Homo sapiens: one gene and its partner. The protein of the gene in region 1 purifies or fractionates together with the protein of each later gene. This does not show direct contact. Each region holds a gene or a part of one and is shown on either strand. Other genes may lie near its edges. The genes, in order: SLC25A17 and ARID4B.

The links.
Region 2: the proteins of SLC25A17 (region 1) and ARID4B purify together in Homo sapiens (affinity purification with mass spectrometry; one large-scale study listed by BioGRID and IntAct). This does not show direct contact.

Annotation. Positions count from the first base shown.
Region 1 is NC_000022.11:40,771,511-40,774,448, forward strand, and holds part of SLC25A17 (peroxisomal membrane protein PMP34), read right to left. Parts: intron 2,510-2,938; coding exon 2,427-2,509; intron 1-2,426.
Region 2 is NC_000001.11:235,178,174-235,182,003, reverse strand, and holds part of ARID4B (AT-rich interactive domain-containing protein 4B), read left to right. Parts: coding exon 1-419; intron 420-819; coding exon of another isoform or gene 820-911; exon of another isoform or gene 912-933; intron 934-3,830. UniProt on the Homo sapiens protein: Acts as a transcriptional repressor. May function in the assembly and/or enzymatic activity of the Sin3A corepressor complex or in mediating interactions between the complex and other regulatory complexes.

The DNA of each region.
Region 1 (2,938 bases):
CAGTACTATTCAGCCATCAAAAAGAATGAGAGTTTGTTGTTTGTAACAACATGGATGGAACTGGAGGTCATTCTGCTAAGTGAAACAAACCAGGCACAGAAAGACAAATATCGCATGTTCTCACTTATTTGAGGGACCTAAAAATCAAAACAATTGAACTCATGGAGATAAAGGTAGAAGGATGGTTACCAGAGACTACTGGGAAGAGTAGTGGCGGGGGGAAGGTGGGGATGGTTAATAGGTACAAAAATAGATAGTTTGAATAAGACCTAGTATTTGCTAGCACAACAGGTGACTATAGTCAATAATAATTTAATTGTACATTTAAAAATAACTAAAAGAGTATAATAGGACTGTTTGTAACAAAAAGAATAAATGTTTGAGAGGATAGATACCCCATTTTCCATGATGTGATTATTATGCTTTGCATGCCTGTATCAAAACATCTCACATACCTCAAAAATATATACCTACTATGTACCCACAAAAATCAAAAATTAAAAAATTAAAAAAAAAAAAACAAAGCCATTATTAACATTTGTATACAAGCTTTTGTGTAGACATATGCCTTCATTTCTCTTGGGTAAATACCCTGAAGTGGATGGCTGGGTCCTATAATAGGTGTGGTATATAAAAATTTTTAAAGAAAATGCCAAATTGCCTTCCAAAGCAGCTGTACCATTCTATATTCCCACCAGCAGCATAAGAAAGTAAGTTCTGGTTGCTCCAACATCCCTCCCAATACTTGATATAGTGAGTATTTATTTTTTACTTTATACATATTCTTTGTCTTTTATTTTATTTTATTTTTTGATAGAAGGTCTCACTCTGTTGCTCAGGCTAGAGTGCAGTGGCACAATCACAGCTCACTGCAGCCTCGACCTCCTGGGTTCAAGCAATCCTTCCACCTCAGCCTCCTGGGTAGCTGGGACTACAGGCAGGCACCAGGATGCCTAGCTAATTTTTTATTTGTGTAGAGACGGGGTCTCACTATGTTGCCCAGGCCAGTATCAAACTCCTGAGCTAAAGCGATCTGCCTGCCTTGGCCTCCTAAAGTGCTGGGATTATAGGTGTGAGCCACCACGCCCAGCCTAATTTTGTCTTTTAGTCCCTTGAATGTTCTTTTTTTTTTTTTATTTTTTTTATACAAGGTCTTGCCTCTTTAGCCCAGGCTGGAGTACAGTGGTGCCATCATAGCTCAGTACAGCCTCAATCTGCCGGGCTCAAGTGAATCTCCTGCTTCAGCCTCGTGTGTAGCTGTGATTACAGGTTTGTGCCACATGCTTGGCTAATTTTGTAAATATTTTTTGTAGAGACAGGGTCTCACTACTTTGCCCAGGCTGGTCTTGAACTCCTGGCCTCAAGCTATCCTCCTGTCTCAGCCTTCCAAAGTGTTGGGATTACAGGCATGAGCCACTTTGCCTGGCTGCATATTTTATTTTAATAATAAATTTATTTTCAAAGTATCTTGTATCTAGGAACAGTAATAAAGTTATAAGAGCTTTTGCTTCAAAGGAGGTCCCTGACTTATCTGACTTCACTAAGTGTCAGTTTCTTTAAATGAAACAGGAAATGACAATAGTTCTTAACTCACAGAGCTACTGTTAGGATTGACAAGGCTGGGCGCGGTGGCTCACACCTGTAATCCCAGCACTTTGGGAGGCTGAGAAGGGCAGATCACGAGGTCAGGAGATCAAGACCATCCTGGCAAACACAGTGAAACCCCATCTCTACTAAAAAATACAAAAAATGAGCCAGGCGTGGTGGCAGGCGCCTGTAGTCCCAGCTACTTGGGAGGCTGAGGCAGGAGAATGGTGTGAACCCAGGAGGCGGAGCTTGCCGTGAGCGGAGATAGCGCCACTGCACTCCAGCCCGGGCAACAGAGCGAGACTCTGTCTCCAAAAAAAAAAAAAAAAAAAAAAAGGATTGAGATTACCTATGTGTAGCCTCTAGGTCAGTGTCTGCCACATGGCAAACCACTGAAAATGTTAGCTACTCTTACCAACACCACCATCATCATTATCATCATCATCATCACTATTATCACTTTTTCCACTGCCCCCTCCCTTCTCCAGTACTCCTATTCTATAGGCAGATGTTATATTGCTAAGAGGCATCATAGGATATGCCACTGATGAAAGCACACTCAGGGTGACTGAAGTATAGAAGGGTTCTCTTTCTGAAGGAGTTCTGAATATTTGTAACTAACAAAGAATAAGAACCTGAACTTTTCCATAATTTCCCAAAATGCTGTCATACTGTACTAGGCTCCTAAAATGGGAAATGTCTAAGCACAGCAAGCAAGGGAAAGGTTTTGGAGGTTGCCACCACCAAGGCAGTAGTGTGAGAGAGGGAAATGCAACCCCTCCCTGGCAGAGATGGCTGCTGAAGGAGAGCACGGAATGTGAGGCATCTACAAAGCTCACCTTACTCGTTGGTGAAGAAGATAGAGAATATTCCGAAGACTTCCCAATGTTCTGTTTTCTGGGTTTAGTCTATGACGCCCAAACTGAGGAAAGAGGGAAAAAAAACAAAAGTACTGTTGCTGTTTTTTAAAATCTTCATTTTTACCTGGGGAGGATATTATGTTGGAGTAGTATCTTATAGCATACATTAATAAATTTATCCAATTAGTACCATAGATTTCATTAATCCTGTATTTTTCAACTGAGTGAAATATTTCAATCAAATAAGTGAAAATAAGAAAAATTTTTCCTTTTTTTTTTTTTTTGAGACATCTTCTCACTCTGTCACCCAGGCTGGAGTGCAATGGCACAATTTTGGCTCACTGCAACCTCCACCTCCCAGGTTCAAGTGATTCTCCTGCCTCAGCCTCCCGAGTAGTTGGGATTATAGACATGTACCACCACGCCCGGCTAATTTTTGTATTTTTAGCAGAGATGTGGTTTCACCATGTTGGCCAGGCTGGTCTCGAATT
Region 2 (3,830 bases), on another chromosome or scaffold:
GGCTGAAGAGGAGAGTTGTTCACCCAGTGTAGAACTAGAAAAACCACCTCCAGTCAATGTCGATAGTAAACCCATTGAAGAAAAAACAGTAGAGGTCAATGACAGAAAAGCAGAATTTCCAAGTAGTGGCAGTAATTCAGTGCTAAATACCCCTCCTACTACACCTGAATCGCCTTCATCAGTCACTGTAACAGAAGGCAGCCGGCAGCAGTCTTCTGTAACAGTATCAGAACCACTGGCTCCAAACCAAGAAGAGGTTCGAAGTATCAAGAGTGAAACTGATAGCACAATTGAGGTGGATAGTGTTGCTGGGGAGCTCCAAGACCTCCAGTCTGAAGGGAATAGCTCGCCAGCAGGTTTTGATGCCAGTGTGAGCTCAAGCAGTAGTAATCAGCCAGAACCAGAACATCCTGAAAAAGGTGAGAAGGAAAATGTGTATGTTGACTTATTTTAGGGTTTCCCCTCTTAAAGTTTCAATGATTTCACAGTATCTCTTGTTATAACCTGAGGCGATTAAGTGTCATATTTGTGTGAACATGGTAAAAATGGAAATTTTAAAGGTAATTTGAAAATGAATAGTGGAATGCATTTAAAAGCTTGAGAAGGCTTTAATGTGCTTTGCTTGAGCCATCCATGGCATTTTATTGTGGACCAGAACACATGCTAGAAATTGCACCCAGGCCCAAATCCAAACCTGTTTGAGAATTCATTATATGCAGTGGTTGACTATATGGCATGAGCAGCTTAAATCTATTTCTGTAACATTGTTTTTGCAATTGTAATGTGCAGTTTCTCACGAACATTTTGATTTATTGACAGACCCCTCCACCCTTAACCAAATACTGTATGTAGGGGTTTGGAGCAACCAACTGTCCAGGCACTGCTTTCCTCAGACAACCGTGTCAAACTGATTTTCAAGCCTGACTAACTTGTGTGAGTTTGTAAAGGAATTTGATGCTTTCTTAGATGCATAGCTTCCAAATTGAAGGACCAATGTGTACGTTAATAACCTACAGTAATACTTTTTTGATTTTCCGTGAAATTGTTAAAAGTGGAAATTCAAATCGGTACCTTCCCAAAGTATTAGTGCCTTTCGATGGTGCCATAGCCATACTTCTGTCATCATTTTTCTTATAAACCACTTCATTCAGGTATCTTTAAATCAGTATACTCTAGGCTGACACCTGGCTTTGGAACACACTTTTCCATCGTAAAGACAGAGCACTGGAGTATGTTTTTTATATACCGTAAAAGATTTTAGAATGCTAGCTTTAGGTTTTCAGCAAAGCTTAAAGAGATATGGTCTAGATCAAATTAGTTAATTCTATGTTTTCTCAGGAATCTTGACTTAAAACATTTCTGTTTTAAAATAAATTAAAAAAATACTTGCAATTAAATTGAAATGTTCTTTGCTTTTTTTCACATTTACAAGTATAACTACTATGATTTTATCTGTGCCATACTATCTCATGCAACTGAACTATCCAGGCATGACTAATCTTCAAAATGAAAGAATCCTTTATTTCAGAATATTAGGCTTTCAACAGTAAGATTTTACTGGCCAGGTGTGGTCACTCACACCTGTAATCCCAGCAATTTGGGAGGTCTGGGAGGTCAAGGCGGTGGATCGCTTGAGTCCAGGAGTTCAAGACCAGCCTGGACAACATGGCAAAACCCCATCTCTACCAAAAATACAAACGTCAGCCAGCTGTGGTGGCGCATGCCTGTAGTCCCAGCTACCTTGGGGGCTGATGAGGGAGAATCACTTGATCCCGGAAAGGCTGCAGTGAGCCAAGATCACGCCACTGCACTCCAGCCTGGGTGATAAAACAAGACCCTGTCTCAAAAAAAAAAAAAAAAAAAAAAGAAAAAACAAGAAAAGAAAGAAAAAAACAGGTTTTATTGTTATAGGTTTTCTTGGGGGTTTTTTTTTTGAGATGGAGTCTCGCTCTGTTGCCCAGGCTGGAGTGCAGTGGTGTGATCTGGGCTCACTGCAACCTCCGTCTCCTGGGTTCAAGTGATTCCCCTGCCTCAGCCTGCTGAGTAGCTGGGACTACAGGCGTGTGCCACCATGCCCAGCTAATTTTTTGTATTTTTAGTAGAGATGGCATTTCGCCATGTTAGCCAGGATGGTCTCTATCTCTTGACCTCATGATCTGCCTGCCTTGGCCTCCCAAAGTGCTAGGATTACAGGCATGAGCCACCGTGCCTAGCCTATTGTTGTAGTTTTTAAGAGGTTGTATCCTTATTATGTTCGTAATATCTTACAAAAGATTAAAATTAACAACAAAAAAAAAGAGGATATCTTCTCTGCTAATAGACTAAGTCAACACTGCCCTTTTGAATCTTAATCTTGACTAGGTTAATAATTGTGGAATTTGAAAGCTACTCCTAAATTTAGGGTAATTTATATCTCTTTAGAAATAATTGGTGTTTTTCTTTTTGTTGGGTTTTTTTTTTTTTTTTTTTTTTTTTTTTGAGACATAGAGTTTTGCTCTTGTTGCCCAGGCTGGAGTGCAGTGGTGCAATCTTGGTTCACTGCAACCTCCACCTCTCAGGTTCAAGAGATTCTCCTGCCTCAGCCTGCTGAGTATCTGGGATTAACGCCCGGCTAATTTTTGTATTTTGTTTAGTAGAGATGGGGTTTCGCCATGTTGGCCAGGCTGGTCTACGAACTCCTGACCTCAGGTAATCCACCTACCTTGGCCTCCCAAAGTGCTGGAATTACAGGCATGAGCCACCGCGCCCAGCCAGAAATAGGTTCTTAAGCACCTGTTTCACATGGCCACATTTTAATAAATTTACTTACTATGAATATTGGAGACTCCCCACTATATCACAAGTTAAAATTTAAGTTTTACTATTTAGATGTAGTTTTTTCCTCTTAATTTACTCTACATTGAAGGTTTTTATTTCTTAGTATCTGAACACTTTAGAATTAAACTCTCTTGGAGAGAAACCTGACAATTATGGTTCTGTGCTTCAGTATGGTCAATATCTACGTCTCCTTTATGTTTCACTTAAATTGTGATATTAAAATGACATTAGGTGGGTCACATACTTGGTGTAAAAAATAAAAAAGAAATATTAAAAATTTAAAAAGGTATTAGGAAAAGTTGTAAGTAAGATTATATGACCCATTAAAAAAAAGCTAGGAAGTTGCAGACAGTTAATTACTTGTCCTGTTTTTGATCAAGGAAGTTAGGTTTTATACACAGAAGGTTGATTTGGTGTCTGACATTGGAACTGAATGGAGATAGTACTTTATTAGTCTCTGGAGAAAAAATCTTACTTTATATAGTCTGAGAGATAACATATATGAATTAGACAGAAATATAGCAGATGTTAAGGACCAAATGAGTAGTATAGAAAAATGCTACAGTTCAGAGTAGTGATTGATCAGTGAAGCCTGGAACATCTTAGTGAAGATGTAGGACTTGGGCTAGTCCTTGAAGAAAAGGGAGACATTTATTTGTAATGTTTTGCAATAATTTCCCACCAAGAAGATGAGACGTTTTTTAGAACTACTATGTTGGATTTGTAAATGGTATGCATGTTAACCAAACAGTGCCCTGGGAGCTTAGTTATTCTTGACATAAATTGGTAAAAAAGAACCAAGTATGAATTACTGCTAAAATTTACCTCATTTATATCATTTAAAAATTATATTAATATGATTATAAGACATAATGTCATTAACATTTTAACCTGTGATTAAGTCTTAATATTTTGGTTTTATTGAATCTTAACAAATTTCAGTTTTTATTTTCAGCATATACTTTTAATTACTAGGCTTATAAACTCCCAGTACTATATTAAGGACTATTTTC